3 linked regions of the Homo sapiens genome follow. The main gene of each other region encodes a partner of the protein of the gene in region 2 in a complex. Each region holds a gene or a part of one and is shown on either strand. Other genes may lie near its edges. The genes, in order: HDAC3, TBL1X and ZYG11B.

Region 1 (3,747 bases), on a different chromosome or scaffold from region 2:
AACTGTTAGACATCAAAACTCCCAGTCCTCCCTCACCAGTCATCGCCTACGTTGAAGGCATTAAGACTCTTGGTGAAGCCTTGCATATTGGTGGGGCTGACTCTCTGCAGGAAGTCAATGTAGTCCTCGGAGTGGAAGCGGCACATGTCATGTTGGGAGGCCTGGTATGGCTTGAAGACCTCGGGATGGAGACACAAGATGAACCCAGGCAGGGTCAGCCCCACTCCACAGGCTCAGACCACCCATACTGAACCCAGTCCTGGAGACTATATGAAGCCAAACATAGCATTCCCCTCATCCCACAATCCTTAAGTCAGTAGAGAGACTCCGATTAACCAGGTAAGTTATTACAAATGAGCCCCCTGAAGACCACTTCTTTTCCTTTCCACCTCCAGCTCAGCCTATCGTACCTTCTCAACTTTGAGCCCTGATCCACCTGCCCTGTTCCTTGGAATCTCCTATTCCCAGTTCTCTCCATGCTCATCTCCTCCCCCAAGCTCTGATTCTGTCCTCTTTCCTCTGGATTCTTCTTTCTGGAGTCAAATATATGGGATATATGTCAACTTTCTAATTAAAATCAAAGATTTATTATCTTTGGAAGGTCAGGGGGATGTGTCACACCTCTTTGAAAACTGCACAAGAAAGAGCTTTTCTTCTCCCAGAAAATGCACACAGGTACATACAGGCAAACAATCTCAAGGGATATAGATTCCTGCACTAACATCACCTCAGTCTTTTCTATGACCAGTCCATTTGTCTGTGCCTTGGCACAAGCAATGAACATTCATTCATATTGTTCACTAGTTTCCCTAGCAACACATAAAGCCTGGGTTTAGCTGTTTTGTCTTATTTTTTCTTTTGAGACAAGGTCCTCCCTGTCAACTCAGGCTGCTGATCATAGATCACTGTAACTTTAAACTCCTGGGCCCAAGCCATCCTCTCGCCTCGGCCTCCCAAGTAGTTGGGACTACAGGCACACCCACCGCACATGGCTACTTTTTTTATTTTTATTTTTTGTAGATGTGGGTCCCACTGTGGCCCAAGCTGGTCTCCAACTCCTGGCCTCAAGCGATCCCCCCCATTTCAACCTCCCAAAGTGCTGGGATTACAGGCATGGGCCACCACGCCTGGCGTGGCTTAACTGTTACTATCCCATATCACAGCCATAAATTCCAAGCTGGGAAGACAGCATGTGTATGTCTGGTAGATGAAAAACTGGATAGCGATTAAGCAGAACCATGTAGAGGTATTCCAGGCTGAAAAAGGAATATCTAAAATATCGCCTCTGTTCCACACGCACATACACATTTACAAAGACGGCAGCATCGTTCCACCCTGGAGCCCTAGCTCCTTGGAGGTAAAGAAAGGTGGTAAAAGAGGAGTGGGAACTGAGGGTAAACCTCACACCCTGATACAGTGATATCCGCTCCCCTAACCCTAATTCCTGAGGCCAAGGCCCTATCCACACTCTAAAATGCAGAGGAGGAACACACCTTCTGTCTTCAAACCAGCCCCACATCACGCTAACCCTAGGCCAAGGGCTAGTGTGCCTACAGTCAGAGGGTGGCCGACCTGAGGTGAGAAAGTACTTTCCATTAAGCAGAGGACGCCACCCCCAACACCCTGCACTTTCAAGGTACTCCTGGTGACTTCTATCCAGCTCCCCGATACTCTAGGGGCGGGTCGCACTTCATGCACTCAGTCCAGCCCACCTATCCCTACGGCCACAGCTCGCCCCACCCCCCAACCCCCGGCCGAGGCGGCGGAACTCACGATCATCTTCTTATAGAGACCGTAATGCAGGACCAGGCTATGGGTCAATGCCAGGCGATGGGGCTTCATAGGGTGTCCAGCTCCTGGGGGTGGGGAGAAGAGAGTTCGTCAGCTCTCACCCCTGGAGTTGCAACCCCGCCTCAAAACCTCCGTGTCCCAACCCCTCATGCATATCCCTGTTTCCTCACCGTAGTGGAAGTTGCCCACGTCGGGGTCGTAGAAATAGGCCACGGTCTTGGCCATGGTGCCGGCGGGAGCAGGCCCCGCACCTCCGCCGCCCGCCGCCCGCGGCCGCCGCCAGCCCCTCCCCGGCCGTGCGTGCTGCGCAAGCACGTAGCCGGCCTCTGCGGAACTGGGCGTTGCGGCCCCGCCTCCATCCACACCCAGGCCACGCCCCCAGGGGAGCTCCGCCCCTCGCCCGGCTCAGCTCTCCCGGTATCTGGGGCTTTGAGCGTCCCGGGTTGGGCAGGGAACTGGCAGCATAGCTCCTAGGATGCGAGGGCCATTTGTCTCCGGCCGGGGGTCAGATCCTCGGGAAGCCGAGCCATCCCATCCAGCCGCTTGCCCCAAACCGGGCGCAGGCCGTGGTCACTTCTCTAGGAAGCTCCGAAGATCCCGCCACTCCGTCCCTCAAAGGTGCGGAAAGCCGGCTTCCCCCAGCCCTCGGAGAAGATTCCTGACTCTCCGCTCGGTCGGGGCATCTGAGGGCAGGAGCTGCGCCAGGCGTACCGGATAGACCAGTGGACAACACCCACGCCGGACCGCCTGTCCCCTACCCGGACCCAGACTCGGCGCCGCACATTGCCCCGGGGGGGCCCGGCGCAGTCACGCGCGCGCAGAGCTCACGCTCTCCGCCCCGCACACCTGCGCTCCGCCCCCTGGTCCTGGGCCCGCGACGGGTGAAGGCATTTGGGAAGCCAGGGCGGCTGCGGAGGCGATCTCCCTGACCCAGGGCCGGAGTTGCCCGGAGCCTGCCACCGCTCTCAGCCAGCCCGCATCCTTCTCTGTTCTTCCCTCCCCCCGCCTGCCACGGCGCGGGTATCCGCAGCCACAGCCCGGGGCCGGTGAGGCGGCGAAGGGGGAGGGGAGGAATCAAGGGATGAGCGCCGGAAGGGCGTCGGGGGCCCTGAGCCGCACTAGGACGCCCCTGGAGCCGGAACCCCAGCAGAAGCCGGAACCAGAACCAAATCACCGGTACCGGGTCGGCCAGGTGGTCAGGGTGGGAGAAACCAAAAAGGGAGAGGGGTGCGGGAGTACTGAGAGGAAGGGGCTGCAGAGGCCTGGCTCAGGCCGGCGTGGAGGAGGTGCGGGCGCTGACTCAGGCAGGATTTCTGCTCCCGCCGCCTAAGAATGCCGTCCCATCTCGTGCTGCAGTGTCCTTGGGAGGGACAGAAGCGCGAACAAGCTGGAAAGGGGAACGCTCGGGGCGTCGGGGAAGCGGGACCAGGGTCGTGGTAGAGAGCTTGCGTTGCCGCTGACCTCTTGCCGAAAGGCGAAACAGCACTCCTGGCCCGGACAGCTCCCTGGTTGGGTAGGGGGTGGGGCCGGACCTCAGCCGGACGTCTTAGACGTGCTTGTTTCAGATCCTGAGGACGGCATTCCTACCCCTCCCCCATTCCCAGCTGCAGCCCCCTAAACCCAGGAGGCGCCCTGGCCCGCGCTCGCCCCCCAGGGCCTCATGTCGGAACCACAGCCTGACCTGGAACCGCCCCAACATGGGCTATATATGCTCTTCCTGCTTGTGCTGGTCTTCTTCCTCATGGGCCTGGTAGGCTTCATGATCTGCCACGTGCTCAAGAAGAAGGGCTACCGCTGCCGCACGTCGAGGGGCTCTGAGCCTGACGATGCCCAGCTTCAGCCCCGTGAGTGAGGAGCCTGGAACCCTGGCTCAGTCACCTTTCACCCTTCTCCCCACACCTCTGCCTCCCTGACCAACAGACCCAGGCCAAATCCTGATCAAACCTGCTCAGGAAG
Region 2 (3,747 bases):
GTAACACCGAGCTGTGCCAGCTGTGTTGCCTGCCCTTACCTTGCCAACATGATGTTGGAGTTTGGGTTGCTGGTGGCGGGCCCAGTGGGGCTCCACTTGATGGTGTAGATCTCTTTATTGTGAGCCTGAAGATCATGGATGCACACCTCCTGTTTCATGCTCCAGATCTACAGAACACACCAGACACAACATGAGCAAAAGCCATTCCTGCATCCGGGAACGATGTGGAATCATTCCTCCCGGGGGTGCACACGGGGCCCAGGGCAGGGTGGAGGGTGCACAGTGGTGAGAAAGGCTGCAGGGAGGCTGCGATTCTCAGTGGGACTATGACTGAGAAATCGTAGCTCACCGGATGACAGAGGAAGGGAGGGTGGTCAGTAATAAATAATCCTCATGTAAGAGTGACCGTGAGACTGGCATCAAGTGCCCGGGGTTGTCTAGGATTAAACAGCCCACCCCTTGCCATGCCGACTCTACCTTCAATGTCATGTCATCCGAGCAGGATGCCAGCAACATTCCAGACGGATCCCATTTGATGGCGTTGACCTCGTTCTGAAAGAGAGCAGAAGAGTGTGAAAAAGACATCAGGGCCTGTGAGTAGATGAGGTCACCTTCCAGCAGGGGGCAGCAGCGCGCCACCGGCGCTGCAGAAGGTCTTCGGCTTCAGCCTGACATCAAAGGGCACAGCCCAACCAGCCATCTAGTTTCCTCTTTTTCTCACTTTGCCTTTTTCATTTATATAAAACCACAGCCCTATACCACACAACACCAGCCACTCTCATCCATACTTCATTAAGAAAAAAACCTTCCCTGCTAGGAAGGAAGGCAAGTGAAGAAATCACATACCATAAAACGCAGCAAATAAAACCAGTAAAACCAGTTACTTTTTAAATTGGCCTTTGAAAATCACTTTCCTATGCACTTTTCTTTTTCAGACAGGGTCTCACTCTGTCTCCCGGGCTGGAGTGCAGTGGCAGGATCACAGGTCCTTGCAGCATGTACCTCTTAAACTCAAGCAATCCTCTTGCCTCACCCTCCCAAGTAGCTGGGACTACAGGCAGGCACCACCATGCCCTTTTTTTTTTTTTTTTTTTTTGGGATTTTTGCCCAAGCTGGTCTTGAACTCTTGGGCTCAAGTGATCCTCCCACCTCGACCTCCCAAAGTGCTGGGATTACAGGCGTGAGCCACCATGCCAGGCCTCTTATGCACTTTTAATGTAACAGTTCCTCCAGTGTCCACACCCATTAGAAGGTATTTCTCTCCTGCAGGTGAGTGGAGGCGGAGGGAGGGGTAAACATGAGAAGTGAACCCTCACCTATTACGGAGTTCAAGCGGGGTAAGGGCTGATCCAGGTGGAAGATGGGCGACCCAAATGCACACACAGGCAGGCACACATGTGCAACACAAGTGAGAGGCAAATGCTGAGTGGCACAAACACACATGACACAGGCAAAATCCTGGCTGGGGGCTCGTGATCGGCACAGCCAGGTAGCGAAAAGCACAGGCTCAGGACACCTGGGGACCACGAGGCTAAACCCTGGAGGATAAAGGTGAATGAATGTACCCAGGGGCCAAGGGAGACGGGGACACTACCGGGACAGGCATGTGTAAAAGAACCACCTGTGGCAAAGGTTCAGCTGGGGAACAGCCTACCCAGGAGAAATGAGGGGACATGGCGTACCAGCTTGGGGCTCCCTCAGGGGTGACTATAGGGCCCCATATGTCCAGTCCAGTCCCACCATGTGACACCTGCTGTCCCGGCCTAACAATTAACTAATGACACACTCATAATGAATTTTCTAAATTTCATACTCCTAAGGGCTCCGGTTTGGATTAACTGTATGGTCAGGTTGCTTTCTAAGAACATGGAGTTTTGAAGGGTGTGAACTGGACAGTGACAAGGCCACATCTGTGTTCCATGAGGCACACGTGGCCCAGGAAAGGGAGGAGGAAGAAGTTTCGCGGCCCAGGGGCAGGCTGCTGCGAGAGCCCGGGAGGGTGGAGGGGGCCGACTGGAGAGGGGGCTGAGGGTTGTGAGTGTGCACACGCATGGGTGTCTATGAGTGTGAATGTGTATGCAAGGCCAGCAAGGGTGGCTCTGACTGCAGCTGTTCAGAGGAAAACTCATGGGCCCAGGAATGTAGAGCTGGTCACCACTGGCTGTCCCTAGCCAAGCCCATGCAAAGGAACAAATAACTTCCTGGGAGCGGATCCCTAGCTCTGCAATGCAAGCCCCGGTTCCTGGGCCGCCTCCAGAGCCGGCTCATGGGTCTCCACTCAACCCCACTGAGCTGGAGCTTTGTTCAGGGCCATCAGCCACATTAAGACCCACTTAAAGGGCCAAGGCCTGTGCTGGTGGCAAGGTCCTGGGCAGGACACCTGGGAACTGCAGATAGTGTGTACAGCTCTATTAAAAACTTGTGGATAGTCCAGGGTTAGAGGAGAAATAAGTTTAGACCGGGAGAAGAGAGTCAGTTTGGAGCCAAACAGATGTTAACAGGACGATAGGTGCCTGTGCTCTAAAAGCGCCTTCCTTTGGGACAGGGACCCCTGGGCCAGGGGTGGGGAGAGGTGGGCATTAGGGGAATCAGGACAAGGGAATTTACATCAGTTAAGTTAGTGGCACAATGGCAAATCTCCAGGGACTGTGACCATCCTCTCCTGCTTTAACAAGGGACCCCCACCCTGCCCCACCACAGAGATATCCTGGGTGCTGGTGAGAGAAAGGCAAGATGCCATGGTCCCAGCATTGATGCACTCTGCGTTTTCTGGGAGAGGCAGACACGCAGGCCAGCAGCTACTGCCAGGGCTGTGGCATTCATGTGGGCAGTAGGAGCTCAGGGGGTGCCGTGAATCCTCCCCAGGGCGTGCAGAGGATACGTGAATGGGCCTGGAGACTGGGGAGGATTCTGTTTTGGACCGAGAGCTGCTGTGGGGGTCTAAGGCAGGGAGCATTCCAGGCAGGGCTCAGCGCGGGGCAAGGTGCTTGGCTGCACGTGTCTTTAGGAGGACAGAGGCACAGGGAATTTTTGGACACTAGCCCAGGAGGTCGAGGCTAGTAAATGGGTTTACCAGCAGACTGGAGATTGCAGAAGGTTAGAGACCATAGAAATTGGCTAATCTGAGGGAGATTTGGTGAAAGACCGGGAAGCGCCTCAGAGGCCAAACTAAGGAATTTGCTAAGTCAGCTGTTGTTCCCATTGTTGTTCCCTGGTATATAATGGATTTGTCAGCCTCTGCTTGCCTTTAGGATTTTCTCTGTCATTGATTCTGGTGTTTGATGGCCATATGCCTAGGTGGATATGGTCTGTTCTGTTTGTGTGGTTCTGTTTATATTTGTTCTGCTTGAAATTTGCTGAGCTTCTTGGATTAAATGTTGATGTTTTCCACCAAATTTAGGAAAACTTGGCTGTTACTGCCTCAAATGATTTTTCTGTTCCATTCTTTCTTCTCTCCCCATCACGCATATAGGTTTAGGGTCTCTGATATTGTTCCATAAGCCATTAAGCCTTTATGCATTTTTTCGATCTTTTATCTGTTCTTCAAATTGGCCAATTTCTATGCTCTCTAACCTTACTTCCGCAATCTCCCATCTGCTGGTAAATCCACGGATGTGGTTTAGGATCGGTGTCCCCACCCAAATCTCAGGTGGAACTGTCATCCCTGATGCAGAGGTGGGGCCTCGTGGGAGGTGTCCGGATCATGGGGGCAGATCCCTCGTGGCTTGCTGTCTTCGTGAGTTTTTG
Region 3 (3,747 bases), on a different chromosome or scaffold from region 2:
AAAATGACTAGAATGATGATCCTACAGAGAACTAGCTGAGGCTTGTTTGTAAATTTTACTGAAATAGGAAATAATTCTGTCTTTGTATACAATTGCTTCCACGCATGAGCTTTATCTAAGGAAAATAACCTCCTATGTTGGGTTAATAATTTTTTTTTTTTGAGATGGAGTTTCACTCTTTTTGCCCAGGCTGGAGTGCAATGGCTCGATCTCAGCTTACTGCAACCTCCGCGCCCCCCGGGTTCAAGTGATTCTCCTGCCTCAGCCTCCGGAGTAGCTGGGATTACAGGCACCCGCCACCACGCTCGGCTAATTTTTGTATTTTTAGTAGAGACAGGGTTTCACCACATTGGCCAGGGTGGCCTTTTTTTTTTGAGACAGAGTCTTGCTCTGTCGCCAGGCTGGAGTGCAGTGGCACAATCTCGGCTCACTGCAACCTCTGCCTCCCGGGTTCAAGCGATTCTCCTGCCTCAGACTCCTGAGTAGTTGGGACTACTGGTGTGTGCCACCACGCTCAGCTAGTTTTTCTATTTTTAGTAGAGACGGGGTGTCTTTTTTTAACCTCTGTAATCACAGTGTCTCAATCTCTTGACCTCGTGATCCGTCTGCCTTGGCCTCCCAAAGTGCTGGGATTACAGGCGTGAGCCACCACACCCGGCCAAATTATTAATTTAGAATTTTAGTCAGCTAATAAATTATATGTCTAATAATAGGGGGAGATACAGAATGCCACTAGTGTTAATATTTAATCTCTGTATACAAGATATAATTTTCTTTTAAGCAAGAAGGAAATTTAGTAAGATTTCCCTCCTATTGTAGGACATTTCTCCACTTGTGCTTCTGAATAACTCTGATTCATACTGGCCTGAGACTGCTCAGACTTATGGTTCAAAAGCATAAGCTTGGAAGGGATTTCAATTTATTTATTGATTCCCCTACACACATCCTTTTTCAAGTTTCAAGAACACATTTACTGATACTAATAATAACTTCCATCTTTTTAGTTCAAAATGTCACTGTCATAAGAAAAAAATAGGCTGGGCACGATGGCTCAGGCCTGTAATCCCAGGACTTTGGGAAGCCAAAGTGGGCAGATCACGTGAGTCCAGGAGTTTGAGAGCAGCCTGGGCAACATGGTGAAACCCCATCTCTACAGAAATACAAAAATTAGCCTGGCGTGGTACTGCACGCCTGTAGTCCCAGCTGCTTGAGTTGGATGAGGCGGGAGGATGGCTTGGGCCTGGGAGGTCGAGACTGCAGCAAGCCGTGGTTGCACCACTGAACTCCAGCCTGGGTGACAGAGTGAGATCCTGTCTCAAAAATAAATAAATAAATAAAAGCTATTAGTGTTGCTGCTTAACCATCCCATCTAAAATAGTTGCCCTCTCACACACACACAATATCACTTTATATCTTAGCCTGGTTTATTTTTTCTTAGTATTTATTATATAACTATTGTCATTATACATTTATAGGTGTATTTATTGTGTATCCCCTCCCTGTACCCCATGTCTTTTTTTCACTTCTGTAATCACAGTGCCTAGAACATCACCTAGCCCTTAGGAGCTGGTCAAAAATCATCTCTTTATCAATGATTTTTATATTCTGGACATGGAAAGAGACTCTAATCAAATAATTACAGTAAGAAATATAAAATTCCTGTTGCTATGTATTCTATGAAAAAGTGCTACATAATAAAGAGGAGAGTGACCTAGGTTTTTTGGACAGCGTTTCCCTGAGTTCCTTGAATGGAGAACTCCAGGATATGTTAGAGTTAGGCAGGCAAGAGAGAGTATCACCACAGGTCATTTGCACATGCTGCTCCTTCTGTCTGGACTCTTTTTTTTTTTTTTCTTTTTTTTTGAGATGGAGCCTCACTCTGTTGCCCAGGCTGGAGTGCAGTGGCACAATCGCAGCTCACACTGCAGCCTCCACCTCCCGGGTTCAAGCAATTCTCCTGCCTCAGCCTCCCGAGTAGCTGGGATTACAGGCACCTGCCACCATGCACAGCTTATTTTTGCATTTTTAGTAGAGACGGGGTTTCTCCATATTGGTCAGGCTGGTCTTGAACTCCTGACCTCAGGTGATTCACCCACCTCGGCCTCCCAAACTGCTGGGATTACAGGCATGAGCCACTGCACCCAGCCTATCTGGACTATTCTTTACATAACTCCTACAATTTAATCCCTCAGTTCTCTACTTGAAAGTAAGACCCTCTGCAAAGCTACTCCTAACTATTCCATTCCATTATTCCACAACTTCTCTTTTCTTTCCTTTCTATTTTTTTTTTTTTTTAATGAGGTCTCGCTCTGTTGCCCAGGCTGGAGTGCAGTGGCATGATCATAACTCAATGCAGCCTTGAACTGCTGGGCTCAAGTGAGCCTCCCACCTCAGGCTTTAGAGCAGATGGTACTACAGGCATGCACCACCATGCCCAGCTATCAACTTGTCCTTTTTCAGCACACTCAAGATATATTAAAACTCTTCACATTTAAAATTACTGTATGAAGGCTGGATGCAGTGGCTTGTGCCTGTAATCCCAGCACTTTGGGAGGCCAAAGCGGGAAGATCCCTGGAGGCCAGAAGTTTGGTACCAGCCTGGCCAACACAGGGAGATCTCTTCTCTACACAAAAACAAAAAATCAGCTGCACATAATAGAGCACACTTGAAGTCCTAGCTTTACTTGGGAGGCTGAGCTGGAAGGACTGCTTGAGCCTAGGGGTTTGAGGCTGCAATGAGCCGTAATCACGCCGCTGCACTCCAGTCTAGGCGGCAGAGCCAGACCCTATCTCAAAATAAATAAATAAATACATAATAAAATAAAATTACTCTATATACATGAGATGAAAAATGCCAGAGGTCACATCTATTTTACTATCTGTCATTTCCCCAGTGTCAACACAGTCAAAGACACTCCAAAAACATTATTAGATTAATTAAAAGTAAGGACTATGTCTTAGACCAGTAGTTCTCAAATTGTGGTTCACAGACCAGCAGCATCAGCATTATGTGGGTTTTGACAGAAATGCAAACTTTTGTAGTAGTTCACGTCTATAATTCCAGCACTCTGGGAGGCTGAGGCAGGAGGATCACTGGAGCCCAGGAGTTTGAGGCCAGCCTAGGCAACATGGCGAAACCCCATCTCTGCAAAACATATAAAAATTAGCCAGGTGTGATGATGGGCACCTGTGGTCCCAGCTACTTGGGAGGCTGAGGTGAGAGGATCGCTTGAGCCTGGGAAGTCAAGGCTGCAGTGAGCTGTGATCATGCCACTGCACTTCAGCTTAGGGACAGAGCAAGACCCTGCCTCAAAAAAAAAAGAACTGCCACCTCTCAGGCCCTGCCCTCAGTTCACTGCAACCTCCACCTCCTGGGTTCAAGTGATTCTCCTACCTCAGCCTCCCGAGTAGCTGGGATTACAGGCATGTGCCACCACACCCAGCTAATTTTTGTATTTTTAGTAGAGACGAGGCTTTGCCATGTTGGCCAGGCTGGTCTCGAACTCCTGACATCTTAAACATCTCAACTATTCAAACACAACCTAATTAACATTTAACAAATATAAAATACAAAGCTTTATAATAATCATTCATTCAACTGTATTTATTATCTACAAAAATATTGCACGAGAAAGTGGCCTCTACTGATAATTCCTAGCTCAAAATAAGCTAATATTCTGCCTTCTCCTCACCTCTCCCATACATACACTGTTACTCTGTGTGTATATGTTTTAACAAGCAAGGAAA

What was found.
Region 1: TBL1X (region 2) and HDAC3 share a complex: the UniProt entries of both Homo sapiens proteins name them as parts of the N-Cor repressor complex.
Region 3: TBL1X (region 2) and ZYG11B share a complex: the UniProt entries of both Homo sapiens proteins name them as parts of the E3 ubiquitin ligase complex.

What each region holds. Positions count from the first base shown.
Region 1 is NC_000005.10:141,634,775-141,638,521, forward strand, and holds the start of HDAC3 (histone deacetylase 3), read right to left. Parts: upstream 2,076-3,747; 5' UTR 2,017-2,075; coding exon 1,962-2,016; intron 1,857-1,961; coding exon 1,774-1,856; intron 180-1,773; coding exon 37-179; intron 1-36. Other genes in the region: RELL2 (RELT-like protein 2), read left to right, coding at 3,452-3,635. UniProt on the Homo sapiens protein: Histone deacetylase that catalyzes the deacetylation of lysine residues on the N-terminal part of the core histones (H2A, H2B, H3 and H4), and some other non-histone substrates.
Region 2 is NC_000023.11:9,706,053-9,709,799, reverse strand, and holds part of TBL1X (F-box-like/WD repeat-containing protein TBL1X), read right to left. Parts: intron 553-3,747; coding exon 478-552; intron 168-477; coding exon 40-167; intron 1-39. UniProt on the Homo sapiens protein: F-box-like protein involved in the recruitment of the ubiquitin/19S proteasome complex to nuclear receptor-regulated transcription units. Plays an essential role in transcription activation mediated by nuclear receptors.
Region 3 is NC_000001.11:52,729,391-52,733,137, reverse strand, and holds part of ZYG11B (protein zyg-11 homolog B), read right to left. Parts: intron 1-3,747. UniProt on the Homo sapiens protein: Serves as substrate adapter subunit in the E3 ubiquitin ligase complex ZYG11B-CUL2-Elongin BC. Acts to target substrates bearing N-terminal degrons for proteasomal degradation with the first four residues of substrates being the key recognition elements.